Regions from separate parts of the Homo sapiens genome. Here region 1 is linked to region 2. Evidence: fine-mapped expression QTL. A gene starts in region 2. The other region holds a variant in brackets. All regions are shown on one strand. Distances are between the middles of the regions.

Evidence for each region. PIP is the estimated chance that this variant, and not a neighbour inherited with it, causes the effect.
Region 1: its variant is the best candidate, but not a certain one, in a credible set for the expression of SULF1 in tibial artery (GTEx, PIP 0.66).

Annotation. Positions count from the first base shown.
Region 1 is chr8:69,176,947-69,185,289 of GRCh38, reverse strand. No RefSeq gene overlaps it. Among named protein-coding and RNA genes, the nearest start is that of LINC01592, 77 kb to the right of the region's middle. The variant A/G (reference allele first, on the strand shown) is at 4,011.
Region 2 is chr8:69,489,476-69,497,818 of GRCh38, reverse strand. It overlaps SULF1 (sulfatase 1), which reads right to left and starts at 4,972. Exons shown (of 23, transcript NM_001128205.2): 1 at 4,694-4,972; 2 at 1,893-2,054.

The DNA of each region.
Region 1 (8,343 bases), 310 kb after region 2:
AATAGTTGTTATTTTGAACTATTATGGAATTATGGAATTATAAAATTTCAATTATTGTGGAAAATGTATTAATGCTGAATTAGGTGTTTCTTTTTTATTATTATTAATTGTATAAATGAGAGAACCAAGGCAAGAGCTGTGAAGTGACTTCCTTAGGAATTGACATTTAATTACATGGAGAGCTGGGAAAAATGCCTAGATTTTGTGCTTCTTTGTCCAATGTCACAGGCATAACCTAAGTAGCATGTTACTTCTCTGAAATCAACAACCAATTCCTAAATGAGAAACAAGCATCTAATGTGTTCAAAGCACTGTGCTAGACTCTGAAAATATATGGTGCTCTCTCTGTCCATGATGAAGTCTATATTTGTAGCTATGTCTCTTTAAAATTCTCACAGTGTAGCTGAGAAGGCATATGCACTGATAACTGAAGCTTTATAATAACCTTTATAAAACCAGTCGGCACTAAACATTTTATGTTAAATGAGCAATTTTGACGATAATTGTCAAAAATTATAGTTTAAGTAGAAATTATTATACAACAAAACTCTTTACTGAAAAAAGTTAACCTTGTGTTGTTCCTCCATATATCAGCTCTGAAAGCATACAGAACTCTGAGCTGGCAGGAGGGCAGAGGAAATACTGACTCAATTTGTTACCACTATGTCCTTCTCTGACTCCTTGCACGTAATGTAGAGGATTGTGGTGGTAACGGGAAGAGGCTTTCCATACTTCCTTTGGACAAGATGCCTTTGCCCCTTTCTGTATTTTTTCCAGGGAATGTTACCTCAAGGGAAATGTAAGGAGGTTATTCATGTCAGAAACAGTGTTCTAAAAGTACAATGCAAGTAAAAGATATTGTCTGGAAAGGGAGCAAAGAAGTTAAAGAAGGAAAGATGAACAGCCTGCGCAAATAGTGAAATGAGAGAGTTTCGTATGTTTCCATGATTTTAATTGTGGAAAACGTGGAAGGGGTGAGTTGAAGTTGTCTCATCAGTGGCTTTGATTGTAGCAATTTGTATCCTAAAAGCAAGCCTTTCTGAACAGGCAGGACCTGGCAGCAGAATTGCAGAGTACATGTTGCCAAGTGCATAAATAAGTTTATTTTCCAACTTTTGTCAACATCAAGCCATCACAATTTTCTTTTTTTTCTTCAAGAAATCAAAGGTTATTATAAAGCCTTCGTAGACCAACCCCAGCTCGCCATCAGGTCTTTATTTTCTTCAGGCTCATCTTACATTCATCCTAGGGCAGTAATTTAACATGTATTATGAGTTGCTTGACAATCCTAGATTTTTCATTCAGACACAATGTTTCCTTGAGAATTCTAGAATGATAGTCAACCTGGTATAAGATTCTGTAGTAACACATCAATTTTTCCTGAAAAGCAAATGCCAGTCTTATTATGCTCCACAGGAGATCAGATATTGTTTGAAGGCAGTGCTGGGTCTTCAGTGGCTTTGTAACCCACCCATCCCTTGACACTGTTTTCTCAACAGTAAGTGTTTAATAAATCTTAACTGACTGGCTCACTGAGTAAATGAATAAATGAGTGATTTGTTGAATGAGTTAAATAAATGATTTCACATAAATCATTGTTAACAATGCCTGGCATTTCTTCCCCAAGAGGCAGATCCTGTGATTTAAAATTATTCTATTAAATAAAAAAGGTACATACCCATTCAAAGTTAAAGGGAGAAATGAAACATTTCTAGTCAATTCAAGGTTCACATTCACTTTTGCAAAATATATTTTCAGCTTCAAATATCCAGTGTTCCATGTTCCAGGCACTTAGTTTTGAATAATTAAACCTGGCCAAATAACCACCTGGTCTCAGGTCTCATCCTGGCATTCTTGTTTCCCCTCCCGTTCTCCTTTCCCTCCTTCCTGTGGGCCTTTGTTCATTCTGTTGCTGCTTCCTGGAATGTCCTTTCTCAACATGATCAACCGCAAACTCCAGCCCATGTTCCAACATCTAGGGCACATCCAACCTCCGCTCCCCTAATTATTGTTGGCAAATGTGTTCTGCTTTCCCTTAGCCTTATAAGATTCTCTCAAGAAAATGAGTGAGGGTTCAGTGATGTATGCTCACTTAGAAAACTGACATACATTTGGTACTTCAGTAATTCCTCTCCTTGCCTCAGCACTAGCCCCAGGACCTTCTTCCCATTCCTGCAACATGGATCATGTGCTCCTAGCTCTGATTCTGTTTTCTCTGCCTGGAAAACTCTTCCCCACATCACCTTGTGGCTTGCTCTCTCCTTTTGTTCAGGTCTCTGCTCAGGTGAGACCCTATTGGTGAGGGTTTACCTGCCAACCCTTCATCTTCATATGAAGAATGGCCTTGTGTTACTTACTGCTGAATTCCCTGACACATAATGGGCACCCAATAAACATTTATTAAATATGTAGAGTAATAAAATAATACATTTTCTTTAATTCGTGAGGCATATTAGCATATTAAATGATCAAAGGAAAGAAATATCATGAACTTACTTGCCCATGCTAGACCACACTTTCAGAAAGACAGCTGCAAGGTGTACAGACTGCTCCCTCCTCTGAACTACGACACAGTTTGTCAGAAGTGGCATATAGTTTACTGTCATGTTCATTAATTAATTAATGGGTATTATTTCATCATTTCTCCTCCCTCCAACTAGCTTTGAGCTTCCTTGAGTTCAGAGACCACAACAAACATTCTTCTGCATCTTTACAGAGCTTAACAAAGTGCAAGATGCACAGCAAACCCTCACTCAGCCGATTGCTGATTGGCAGAGCTTTCTCAGTTGTGATAAAGCAGAGTTGAGCAGATTGATGGAGAGTACACTCTCCTATTAGAAACGTTGAGCTTTAAAGATAAAATTAATGCTAAATTAGCATTAATAAGAAATTTCTGAAAGAAAATGTTTCCTTCTTTTTTTTTTTTTTTTGAGACAAAGTCTAGCTCTGTTGCCCAGGCTGGAGTGCAGTGGCGTGATCTCTGATCTCTGCGATCACTGCAACCTCTGCTTCCGGGGTTCAAGCAATTCTCCTGCCTCAGCCTCCCAAGTAGCTGGGACTACAGGAATGTGCCACCATGCCTGGCTAATTTTTGTATTTTTAGTAGAGACAGGGTTTCATCTCTCCTATTAGAAACGTTGAGCTTTAAAAATAAAATTAATGCTAAATTATCATTAATAAGAAATTTCTGAAAGAAAATGTTTCCTTTTTTTTTTTTTTGAGACAGAGTCTAGCTCTGTTGCCCAGGTTGGAATGCAGTGGCGTGATCTCTGCGCTCACTGCAACCTCTGCTTCTGGGGTTGAAGCAATTCTCCTGCCTCAGCCTCCCAAGTAGCTGGGACTACAGGTACATGCCACCATGCCTGGCTAATTTTTGTATTTTTAGTAGAGACAGGGTTTCATCATGTCGGCCAGGCTGGTCTCAAACTCCTAATCTCAGGTGACCCACCTGCCTTGGCCTCCCAAAGTGCTGGGATTACAGATGTGAGCCACTGCACCTGGCCAGGAAAATATTTACTTTTCTTTGTAACCAAGTATGTGTTGTCACACCCAATTCGAATATGGATATAGTTTGCTTGGAGTTTAATTTTGTTGGTTTAATAGTGGAAAGATATATATATATATATATATGCATACCATCAAAATGAAAAGAAAATGAAAGGAAAAGCATAAATTCTATAGACAGATTTTCAAATGCTTCTGTGGAAAATGACTTTATTGATTGTTTTAGATATGAAGATTGGACAAAGTATCCAGAACTTTGCCTCAGAAAACTTAGACAAAGCCAAAACATTTTAATAAAACCTTATTAAAATGTTATTCAAAATGGATATAAAATCATCATGATTTTAAGGAAGTACTGTTTTTCAGATTTGAAGATACTGAAATGGCCTTGTTTCTTTTGAGAAGAGATGGATGAGATGGGTACAAGAGTTTCTTTTTCCTAGGAAAAGCACACACAAGAATGGCTCAGCCATAAACATCTGGTGAGTCAACACTGGACTTTTATG[A/G]GAATTCTGGTCTTTTCTTTCTTAGGGCAATGACTCAACTAACTGCCCAAGGGACACATGAAGTACAATATTTTTATGACAGTATTTTTTATTCTTTTGTAGTGGTCACTAAAGAAAAAATTGTTTCTTGGAAACATAGACTCACAGGGCTATGTTTAAAAGATACAAACTGCTACTGAGTCTTGTTTTTATTCTCATTTTAAAATTTACATAAACTGAATTTGTTTCCCTCAAGTAAATGTAAAATAATTTTTTGACATTTAAATACCATCAATATACTTTAAAAATATTTTAAAATTAAGAGTTATTATAAATTTTAAACTTGGCAATAGTCATAGATACATGTCAAAACCAAAATAGAAAAAGTTAAAGAATATACCTTCAAGAACATGAAGGCATGAACAAACATGTATTAGGATTGTTATAATAAGAGTTCCTGTTATGATTTATAAATATGCTTGTGAAAGTACTTAGGTAGGAGACATTTAAGCTATCATAATTCAGGAAAGGTAAATTACAGAGTAAAGGTGTTTGTATGTCTTATCTATTACAACCCTTTTTGCTTTTCTTTTGACATGCTACCAAAAATATTAATTACAAAATGACTTCTGTAGGACTTCTAATATTGATTGTGTCTGTATCTAGATACTCTATCAAAAGAAAGAGATGCAATGTAGGTAGAAGCCTTCATCTTTTGAAGTAACAGACAAACTGGAATTTAAGCATTCCAAACGCTAGAGTATTGTTTAATCTGGTATTGCCCAAGTTGTGCTCCAAGTTGGTAGAGGGATGTGAGTGATGGTAAGGCTGAGGTGATATGCCATGAGTTGGAACTGGAGCATCCTCACTCAAGAAGACAGGTGAAGAGGAGACAGACCAAAGTCATGAACAAGTAGATTGAGGCTGAAGACCAAGGTAAATCTCCAGAGACGAGAGAGCAAGAGACACAGGGGAGGACAGAGGGAGGGCTGGGGCGGCATGCTCTCTGACTTTCATGAGCTTTACTTGGATGCGTAATGGATGGGTAGACTTCAGGGACCACAGAGAGTGCTGAAAAATGTGACTGTGGACAAGTCATTGCACTCCCTGGCCTCTGTAATAAAGAATGAAAAGAGCTCTGTGGTGCTCAGGGAGTGCGGCTGCAGGAGACACCACACAGTCACCTGGAAAACAGACTCCGGCTCTGTCCCCCGCTGACCTGCCCTATCCACACACACTCTGATCACATTTCAAGCTATATCCCCAACATATAACTTTCTTTTCTGGCCTGTTATGCTTCTCTCTCAGTTTGTTCCCTTTTTATTTCCATCTGCTTTCCCCAGTCTCTCTAGAATACTGGTGAATAGTTATCTGTCTAGTTCACTCAGAGTTTACCTCATTCAGTCATCACAACAATTCAGTGAAGCATTTCCTTCCCTGCTTTGCAGATGGGAAAAAGTGTGGCAACTTGCTCCCTCAAACCATAATCTACAAAGTAACTGGCACCAGTTATGTTGTCAATTGTGTTGTAAAAGACAAATAAATAAAAATCTACCATGATTGTCCCACTCATAAGTAGCCACTGTTGATACCTGGTGTGGAAATACATATGTATATCTGAAATTGGGATCAAATTGTTTTTGTAGTCCCCATCCCAGAATAACATATTACATGTATTTTTTTTTCTCATTTCAATCAGAACTCTTTATGGTCACTTTAGAAAGTGCTCATATTTTTCATTCTCTTTTGTTTTTGAAAAGATGGGGTCTCACTAGGTTGGCCAGGCTGGTCTCAAACTCCTGGCCTCAAGCAATCCTCCCTCCTCAGTGTCTCAAAGTGCTGGGATTATAGGTGTGAGCCACTGTGCCCAGCCCTATTTTTTATTTTTATCCCATTTCCCTACACCCCCTAAACTATCAAGGTAAGATTATCACCAGCTGCTAGATTCTTCTCTGAGCCACTTTAGGACAATGTATTAGTCTGTTCTCACGCTGTTATAAAGACAAACCTGAGACTGGGTAATTGATAAGGAAAGAGATTTAAGGACTCACAGTTCCACATGGCTTAGGAGGACTCACAATCATAGTGAAAAGCAAAAGAGAAGCAAAGGCATGTCTAACATGGTGGCTGGCAAGAGGGCATGTGCAGGGGAATTCCCCTTTATGAACTCATTAGATCTCCTGAGACTTATTCACTACCACAGGAACAGTATGGGGGAAACCGCCCCCATGATTCAATTTCTCCACTTGGCCCCGCCCTTGACACATGGGGATTATTACAATTCAAGGTGAGATTTGGGTGGGGACACAGCCAAACCATGTCACACAGTCTCCACTGTTACGAAGTTTGGCCTCAAAGAGGAGGTTCCTATGACATATTCTAAGATAACAAATAGAAGCACTTTTATACATTTAGTTACCTCTATGATATCTGTGAGCTCACAGATATTCATGGGTTTCAGTCTAAGAGGAAGGAGAATATTGAAAAATGATTTAGTTTATCAACACAAAATATCTTTGGAGAAAAGCAAAGGAAACTTCAGGAAGAAATTCAAACTTTTAGCAAATTTTGATTTACACACTCCAATCAAAGGGCAACTTTTGTCTCCACGAATCTGTGCTGTCTGGTTTGTCCATTCCCAGCTAGCTTTTTGCCTTAATTTGGATAAGTCTAAGTGCAGCTTTATCAATCCAGGCCTGTTTCTTGGTGCTGTCACGAACAGTTGGCTCTGGCACACATAATGACACTTGGAAGGAAAGTCTTATTTTAACAACGCTGTTGACTTTCCAACTTCTGCGTTACCACAGTCATCAGAGTCCAATTTACTCTTCAGGGGCCCTAATCATTCTATACCTGAACTGGACAGAAAGAAAATAATTTGTTCACTTAACAGAAAGAAAGTCTATACTCCCAAAACAAAATGAGTCAGACAGTGATCTTTGAATTAACAGGCTCTGCTGACGGACTATTTTCCCCACTTTTCATCAGTCTGGTGACAGTGGACTCTGGACAGAGATAAATGAGAGGTCAAGCTACCCTTCATTTTTCCAGAGGATTATTTCACCCACAGATAAGGCACGAAGAAGGAAGTAATAGTCAAGACCAGCCTGTGAGAAAACAACAAAAAAAGGATAACTAACAAAAGCCCCATTCTCCAGCTCTTGCCCCGGCCAGCGCTTCAGCACGGTGAGCACTCCCACTATAGCAAGCAGAGTTTGTTATTTTTTTCAGTGAGGGGGGTAATAACCCAACAAAGCTAATAGGTGGCAAGGGTGATTGTGCCTCAAGTATTAGATGCTTGTGTTACTTTTCCTAACTTTATAGCTGGTGTTAGAATACCAAAAGAAAATTTTTAAAAAGTTTCTGCACCCAGTTTTTTCATAGTACAGAAAGCCTGGCACCATACAAAAGAAGGTATGCTAAAATATATTTACTGACTGGTTTTAAATGAAGAGAAGAGTGATAAACTTCATAATGTCATTGTGAGATTTAAGTTTTCATTCTCCGTTTTGAGGAAGGAAAATAACTTTCCAAATGCTATTATTATTCTTAGGATATATTGAGGAAACAAGAAGGGTTATCATGATAATAAGTAAAAAGCAAACAAAGATACACATGAACTTGTTACAGACTTTCTTATTGTTAAATTTGATTTCATCAACAATAAGAAAGAAGTAAGTCTACTTCCTTTTTGAGTCACTGTCAAACTTTATTCTACTATGGAAGATAGTTTTTAGATTCTTTGAATTTTCTTAGGGAAATCCTAATCCTAATATATAAAGGACTTGAACAGTTGTCATTTCTATTTCTCCAATTATTTTAAATTTATGGTTCAAAGCAACATAGAGACAGGATGAGTTTTTAGAGACTTAGCACTCCTTAAGGTTGCCAAATTAAACTCAGCAATTAGAATTACTACTGATAAAACTACATTTAAATAGGCACATCAATTAATGTATTTTCTCTAGGAAGTACTTGAGAAAACAGAATGCACAAATGGCTTACACGCTGCAGAATAAAAAAGGTACATGAGAATCAAAAGATTTATCTGATAATGACTTCTGTTTATGTGGATGTTATAGACATTACATGCAAACCGGCTCATTTTCACAAGGTGCATAGTGAAAAATGCTTTTCATGATATTTCAAGAATAATTCTACCTAGGTTTTATGCTTATCTCTTGTTTAGAGGTTCAAATTAAATAGTTTCACTCTGTAGACTGTAGAGTGCTATGCAAATGGCAGTAGAGCAGCTTCAGAACCACTTCTAACTGTAACATTAAGGCAAACTGATGAGCACGCACATCTATTTGTCTACAATTTGTTTATAGTTCTGATTATGCAGCTATGGGCT
Region 2 (8,343 bases):
CACTTAGGAATCCATGCTATAAAGCAACTAGATGATTGAACTTAACTCTCTTGGTTGTCCCCGTTGTTCAGAAATCAAGCTGCATTTCCTGGCTCTGAAACTTTGTAAACTCATCAAATTTTGCTGCAGAGAAATGTCATTAAAATAACAGTCCTTAGTGGAAAACACTAGCACCATTCATCAGTAGCAAAATGCTGAAACAGTAACTGATATTTTTAAACTGTGAATTGGAGGCATTTTTATATACTTTACACATACACACATTTAGACAGATGTGTAAGGTAAATGTTCATTTTTCCTATGCAGTTGTCCTTTAATTGTCTCTTAAAAGTGGCTTTAGTCTTGTTGCTTAAGAACATTCTGGGCCGGGCCTGGTGGCTCATGCCTGTAATCCCAGCACTTTGGGAGGGTGAGGTGGGTGGATCATGAGATCAGGAGTTTGAGATCAGCCTGACCAACATGGTGAAACCCCGTCTCTACTAAAAATACAAAAATTAGCCAGGCGTGGTGGCAGGTGCCTGTAATCCCAGCTACTCAGGAGGCTGAGGCAGGAGAATTGCTTGAATCCAGGAGACAGAGGTTGCAATGAGCTGAGATTGTACCACGGCACTCCAGCCTAGGTGACAGATCAAGACTCTGTCTCAAAAAAAAAAAAAAAAAAAAGAGAAAAGAACATTCTGTTTTAGCTTCCGTCACCTTGGAAAGTAATAACTGGTTCCAAACTGCTTTTCCTAAAGGGTTGTTGGAAGGTCCAAAGTGTGCTCATTAGAAAACTCATGCTGAACCACACAAATCTTGCCATCGTGGATGGTGCACGCATGTGGGACTATTACTTCATACACAATTGACATGGGGCCAGAAAACATGTGAACAGGAAGCCAAACCCAAGAGAAAGTTGAGGAGCTTCCAGCTTTCCATGGAGCACAGAAAGAAGCAAAATCCAGCAACAGTTTGGACTCAGGTGTCTGGGGAACTTCACAGCTGCGAACTATCCACTCTTTAAACACTGCAGAGGCAAAGCACAGTGGCTCAGGCAGCACCCAGTTGGGAGTAAATCATTATGTCGGCTAACCTAAAAAGATTGTGAGGGTGTAGTACTTGCTTATGAAGCCAAGTTTAAATGGCTTGAGTAACCTAAATGTGGAATGACCAGCACCATATATGGAAGCTCAGTATATTCTTCATACTTCAATTGTGCTAATGGGAATTTCCCCAAATATATCTTGTTCCTTCCTTAAATAATGAACTTTCCCATGATGCAGTCATCTTATTCAAAAGTATATATTTGGTGATTATTTTGCATAGCTGAGATGTTAACGGTTCCTTTTTGGGACACTTCTTTTTTTATGGCAAAAGCATTTTAGCAAAAATAGAAATGTTTTTCACCATTTCAAAAGTCAAAGATGATTTCCAAAGTTTGGTGAATTAAGTGAGCCATCAGAAGTGGAAGAAATTCAGATTGTTATCAAATGCTATCTTTCTAATAAGTGGTAAGGCTCTTTATATTTAGAGGTGGAAATAGCTTTTTAAATCTGTTTTTAAATGTGTTGATACAGTTCACGTACCAGAAAGAAATATTATACCACTTTGCAAGACTAGCCATAAAGTCTGGGGCTAAGCCCCTTTTATAAGAAATGGCATTTGCTCTGAAGTGCTCAGGTAGGGTAACAGCTCTGAAATCCAGGAAATCCGATAGAGGCTTTGCCTAGAAGATTAAGTGCTGAGCACAGAAAGGGTGAAAGGGTATAAGAAAACCAGGGTTATCAAGTAATCAGACCTCAAGATTTAAAAAGTCACAGCTTCCTGCCTGCTAATCAGATTGATTTCTATTCATTCAAAATGTTAAAATTCTTCCAGTTGTCATCTTTAAAAAATTTGCGAATGTTACCCACCTCTCCATTCCAATTATGCTCTCTTCAAGAGTATGGGAAGAATTTACTGGTCACACTGAAGAAGGATGAACTTATTGTAGACTAAATAATGACCAGGTAAGAAATTACTTCCTTTGTGTTAGTCTCTGAGTGAGTTCCTTGTTCAAGAGAAGTGAAGAATCCCTGTTAAGGAAAGGGTTTGTTTTTGATAAGTATTACTTCTTCATGCATATGTGCTTTTTATGAATAAGTATTCTACTAGCTCATAGATCTTTAGTCTCTGCTCATTTCTGAAGTCTCTGAAGAAGTAAAAATTACTCTCTTTGAGGATACACATAGCTACAGGCAAGACTGCCCTAGACATGGGCTTCCTATTGAAAAGTTAATGAGAAAAAAATTCATTTGGCAGCAGGGACACAAGATTAAAGCTCTGATTTCATTGAGTCCAGATAGTGACCATTTCTTGGGGGGCATTAGAACATAGTAGGGAGAGCTCAGTCTTTATGTATCTCCTCAAAATTTCAAAGACAAAAATCTAGCATTTTTTTTTTAAAGAGCCAGGGTCTCACTATGTTGCTCAGGCTGGAGTGCAGTATCTATTCACAAGCTTGATTATAGTGCACCATAGCCTTGAACCTCTGGGCTCATGAGATCCTCCTGCTTCAGCCTCCTGAGTAGCTGGGACTACAGACACATGCCACCACATCCAGATGATAATTTTATGCTTAAAAAAATTGCTTTTTATTTTTACTCAGCGTTGCAGTCTAACCTCTTAGTGATATCTCAACCTGATATTACTCCAACTAACTCAATTTTCTTCATAAACCAGTACCTCCTCTTGTTCTATGGTATTCTATTACAACTACCCAGTAGCCCAGGCCCAAAACTAATATTATAAAAGTTTCCTTTTCCTCCATTCCCTTCATCCAGCCCTGAGTCAAGAATGTTCTACCTTCTAAATATTTCTGGAATCTGCGCCCTATTGTCCACCTACACTGCTCAGTGCCCCCAGCAGTTCTCACTGGAACACTACAATAGTCTCTCTCTTTTTTTTTTTTTTTTTCCTTTGAGATAGGATCTCACTTTGTCACCCAGGCTGAGGTGCAGTGGCACAAACGCAACTCACTCTAGTCTCCACCTTCTAGGCTCAAGCGATCCTCTTGCCTCAGTCACCGGAGTAGCTAAGACTACAGGTGTGTGTCACAAGGCTCAGTTAATTCAGTTTGACCAAACTAAGCCTGAAATCCAGATCTCATCAAAGCTTGTGTTCCTTCTATTATGATTGAGTTTGCCTTTGAGGCTAATGCTGAGATTATGTGGTTCATCTTTGTAATCAAATTAGGTAAAGTATAGAATTTAGTGTTGAAATATCACTTTTAAATTTAGGGGTAAAAGCAACTAGAATCCAATCTTATTTTTGACTTTAATTATACCTTAGAATTTCATGGGAGCCACAGAGAATTCTAAGGGAAAATATCATTTAAAGAGAATCTAAAAAAAGACATAATTTTATAATATTTCCCATGTGTGTTAATAAATACTGAATAAACATTGCAATCTGAAAGTTGATGTGAAATAAATTTCTCCACTTGATCCATTTTGGATGTTGTACTATCATATAACATACTGAGCACTAGATAGATACAACAAATGTAAGAATTTAAGATAAAGACACATATACACACTAACATATACATACATACTATACATGGTTTTCACATCTATTCATCTAGAGGTAAAGATGATAAAGCCTTACAAATGAATCACAGCACTTACAGCATTAAAAGTGAGAGGCCTTGCTTTTCTACATTATTACCAATTTATAGTTCTTAGTTTTCTTACCTGAAATCTTATTAAAACAATAAATCTCTGTATCTCATAGCATACCAAGTTATAATCACGGTTTTATAAATGCAAATTGTACAATTGCCCAAAATAGACCCTTTGTTTTTTGGCTTGTTCAAATAGCAAGTCAGAGTTGCTAAGTATTCAGAAGTTGTGTCTTTCTTCATGTTATTCTAGAGTTTTAAATTCACCTCTTGTTGAAAAGCAGTTTCTCAAAGCAGTGAGCATAATCTCTGAGAAGAGTACTCTGTTAATTCAGCACTCTTTAAGACACATAGTTTGATAACAGGGCTTTGAGTTTTGCCTGTGCTTAAAAAGTTAGTGTCCATGTTTCTTTAATATTAGAACCTTCGGTTATGCAGTGAAAAATTTAATAAAAATTCACATGTCCACTATAGCTACAGTGTTTTGTACAGTTTACCCAAGCCAGTGCAAGTTTCAAGCCTGCACTGAAAGATGGGATTTATTTCGTAGTGTGAAAAGAAACTTTCAACAATTACAACTGATTGAAATTGTGAGTACCCAAGGCAGAGAAACTGAAGACCAAAGTGGCATCATTTCTCCTTGTCTAACAAGCCAGGTGACTAGGGCTCCTCTTAAGGGCAAAAAGGAGTGTGTGTGTGTGTGTGTGTGTGTGTGTGTGTGTGTGTGTGTAGTGTTGTGTGTGTGTGTGTGTGGTGTGTATCAACAGCCAGACATCACCAGAATGCTGTGAAAGTGGCCAATTTCAGTACCTCGCCTGGGTACTATTTTGTTAAGTGAATTAATTATCAACAGAAACCTCTTTCCCCTCTTATTATCATTACAAGGGACCAAATTTGGGTGGAAGACTTTGGCCAGAAACATACTTTCCATCATCTGAGAATATAATGAATAATAATATGATGAATAATGAATAAATAATACGAAAAGGACAGGGACAGGAAGGAAAGTTTGTCTTCTTTCTTTTTAAAGTAAAAGCAGAGCACGATACTTACAAAAGCCGCCTTCAAAATCTTCTCTAGAGAAAAAGCTCTGGGAACAGGGAGGAGGCAGAGGAGCAGAGATAAGGTGGCAGCGGGACTTCCTTCCTCCTCCGAAGGGGGAGAGTCATGTTCCTCATCTGCCCTGACCTCCGAGGAGCGCCGGCAGCCGGGAAGGCCTGGCCTCTGATCCTCGCTGCCCTCGCTCCTGGCCTCTGCGCCTGGGGTTTCCTAGTTGCCGATCAAGCCGCCCCGGCCCGACACCGGCCCCAAGATTCATTAGCGACGGTCTGCGAAGTGCTCGCAAGATGAAGACGGTTATATAAGCCCGCGTATTATTATCATCACACACCCCCATAGAACCAACGCTGCCAGACAAACAAAAGGCAGTTCCAAGAAGAGGAGGAGCAGAGGCAGAAGTTACACTAAGGGTGAATTTCGGGACACGGCTGAAAGGACTGGGGGAAAAAAAAGGGCAACTGAATATGTGCATGCAAACCTCGGCAAACAAACTGCGCTGCAGCCGGCCGGCTTGGACGGCGGCGGGCAGGGGCTCAGGGTTTCCAGGCATGTGGTTCCGGCTCCCTGAGCACCCGACACAGTAGCTGCCTGTGGCAGGATGGAGTGGATGGGAAGATGTGGTATTTGGAAAGCCAGGCGTTCCAGAGACCAAGTGCTTAGTAAACACTGATGTTTCTTAGACTCAGACCAGGTGCTTCTGCTGGTTCTCTTTATTCCTGGTCTCTTGTTTTCCTAAGGATGGTTGGCCAGGAGTTCCCTGTGCCCTGTCGACCCCTCTAATTTTAAACCTCTCTGGGTCTCTCCTCTCTTCTCTGTGGGAGCAATAAACGGAACCAGAGCGCTCTTTCCACTGAGCCTGGGTCCACTGAGAAAGTTCTGATTATTCTGAGCACCAAGCTTCCCTCCCCGCTCCCACAACTTGCTACTCATATTTTCTTTAAATTATTATTATCCTGTCCTGCGCCTGCCACTGCTTCCCAACACGCAAAGAAATTCCTCATCCTGGCACTCAAAGCCCACAATTTCTGTCTCCACACTAATTTCCCACTTCCCATCCCGCCCTCCCGCCTCACCTACTCCCCAGCACGTTATAATGTGAATCATTCTCTAAAGACGGCCTTTCAATTCTCCATTTCCCATCTTTACTCATACCCCCATCCTCACACCCACTTCCTTCAAGGCTCAGTTCAAATCCCGCCTCCCCCACAAAAGCCTTCCCCAATTTCCCCTCTTTTCTCCGTGTGACTCTGTTTCTCTGTTGTCATTCCGCATGCGTTGTCTGTCTCCATAGGTTTGGAACCTTGCGTTGTTCTCCCTGGTGGCCCAGGACAGGGCCCTGCATAAAGCAGGTGCTCAGTGAGTATTCACTGAATGAAACTGACAGCTGACCAGATCTTACCTGCATTGTCGCCAGCTATATGGGCATAGGTGAGAGCCACCACATGGTACTAAAATATGGACGGTTGTCGGATATATGCAATAGGTTCATGAGGGTGTGTAAATTTGCATAAGTTAAACAAGAAAGCTTTTCTAAAACTTGAAGGGGAGCCTCTAAACTTTACTCAAGTCAGCTTACTTTAGGGCTTAAGTTCATGAGGCAAACAAGAATGTTGGCATCTGTTGTTCCTTTGCTGCTGCACATTAGAGGACCTGTAAGTGCAACTTCCTTTACAGAATGCCAGGAAAATTCTCCAAAGGTGAGATTTTTCAGACATCACTGGCTTCTGGGACTGATTTTATGGAGGAACTCCTCCATTATTGAAATAATATGTGCTATCACAACAGCAGCTCAGCAAATGAACAACTGCTCTCTGGTGAATTGTTTTATGATATGGGGTGAAATATAGAACATGAGCTGTCAGATACTGAATTTCTTGTGGCTTTGTATTAAAGTGTTCTTAATGACATTTCCCCTGTTATTTTTTGGTAAAAGTAACATGCTTCAAATTCCACCTGTGCTAGTTGGATCGACCGTGGTGTCATTTAAGAGACTTGGGGTGTGTCTATGCAGTACATGCTCTCCACGCATACAGATTGTTCAGTGAATTAGAAGAATTTTCCCCCCTCTACTAATTTGGAACAATTAAAACCAATTCAGGTTTTAAAGAATTTTGGCCTCAAGTTCCTGAGGATTCGGCTTCAGGAATGACAGCGATCTTACTGCAAATTTGTAGTTCAAGTGTAGGATCATCTCTCATTTTGTTATGCTCAGGTGAGGACCATAACCTTTATTATAGCTACTATTTACAAATCCCTCCTGGGTTTCAGGAACTGGCCTAGATGCTTTACATGTCTTTTTAACCTAGCAGAACTATTTTTGTTTTCGTTTACAGATGGGTAAATTGAGTCTGGTCATACAGCTTAGAAAGTGACAGAACTAGGATTTGAATCTAGGTCTGATTCCATAGTCAATGATTTTTCTATTCTACTGAAAGCTGGAAGAAACCTGAGATATTATCTCATCTGGTGGTTTTCAAACTGGGTTCCAACAAGCTTTAGGCTTTCAAGGGGTACTTCAGGAACCTTGGCAGTGTGTGGGAAGGGGACGAATGTGAGGGAGGCCAGGCAATCTGGCTTGGACTTTACTCAGTTGGAGTCAAATGGAGAAATATTATCTCCATCTGTTTTATAGAGTGACTTAAGACTTTGTTTGAGACAATGGTTTTGTTGCTAAAAAAAAATTTTTAAACTCTTGTTTAACTTCCTCATTAAAGAGTATAGCCATGCATGGTGGCTCATGCCTATAATGCCAGTGCTTTGGAGGCCAAGGCGGGTGGATTGCTTGAGCCAGAAGTTCGAGACTAGCATGGGCAACATGATGAAACCCCGTCTCTGCAAAAAATAAAAAAATTAGCCAGGTGTGGTGGCGCATACCTGTAGTCCCAGCTACTTGGGAGGCTGAAGTGGGAGGATCACTTGAGCCCAGGAGGCAGAGGTTGCAGTGAGCCCAGATTGTGCCACTGCATTCCAGCCTGGGCAACACAGTGAGACCCCATCTCAAAAAAAAAAAAAAAAAAGAAAAGTATGGAACTTGGGATCCAGAAGATAAAATGCCTTGTCCAACGTGGTATAACTAAGGATGACAGGCCCAGCATTAACTTCAAATGTCCTTTATCTAAAGGATGCAAGAGGCCAGTAGTTTCAGACAGAGCCTGAACATCTCAAGTTTTGTCTTTTATATAAAGGACATTTGTTAAAAACCAGGGGAAATGAGAGAATCTACATTTCCCTGACCTGTGTGTGTCCCGACAGTATTCTTGAAAAACGGAAGGCGGGGGCCGGGCGCAGTGGCTCATGCTCCTGATCACAAGGTCAGGAAATGGAGACCATCCTGGCTAACATGGTGAAACCCCGTCTCTACTGAAAATACAAGAAATTAGCTGGGCATGGTGGCAGGCACCTGTAGTCCCAGCTACTTGGGAGGCTGAGGTAGGAGAATGGCCTGAACCTGGGAGGCGGAGCTTGCAGTGAGCCAAGATCGCCCCTCTGCACTCCAGCCTGGGCGACAGAGCAAGACTCCATCTCAAAAAAAAAAAAAAAAAAAAAAAGAGAAAGAAAGAAAAATGGAGGGCAGAAAACAGCCACAGTGGCAAGCTAGACTTATTTTTTTTTTTTAGCCCTCTGGCTATAAGTCTAAAGTTTGT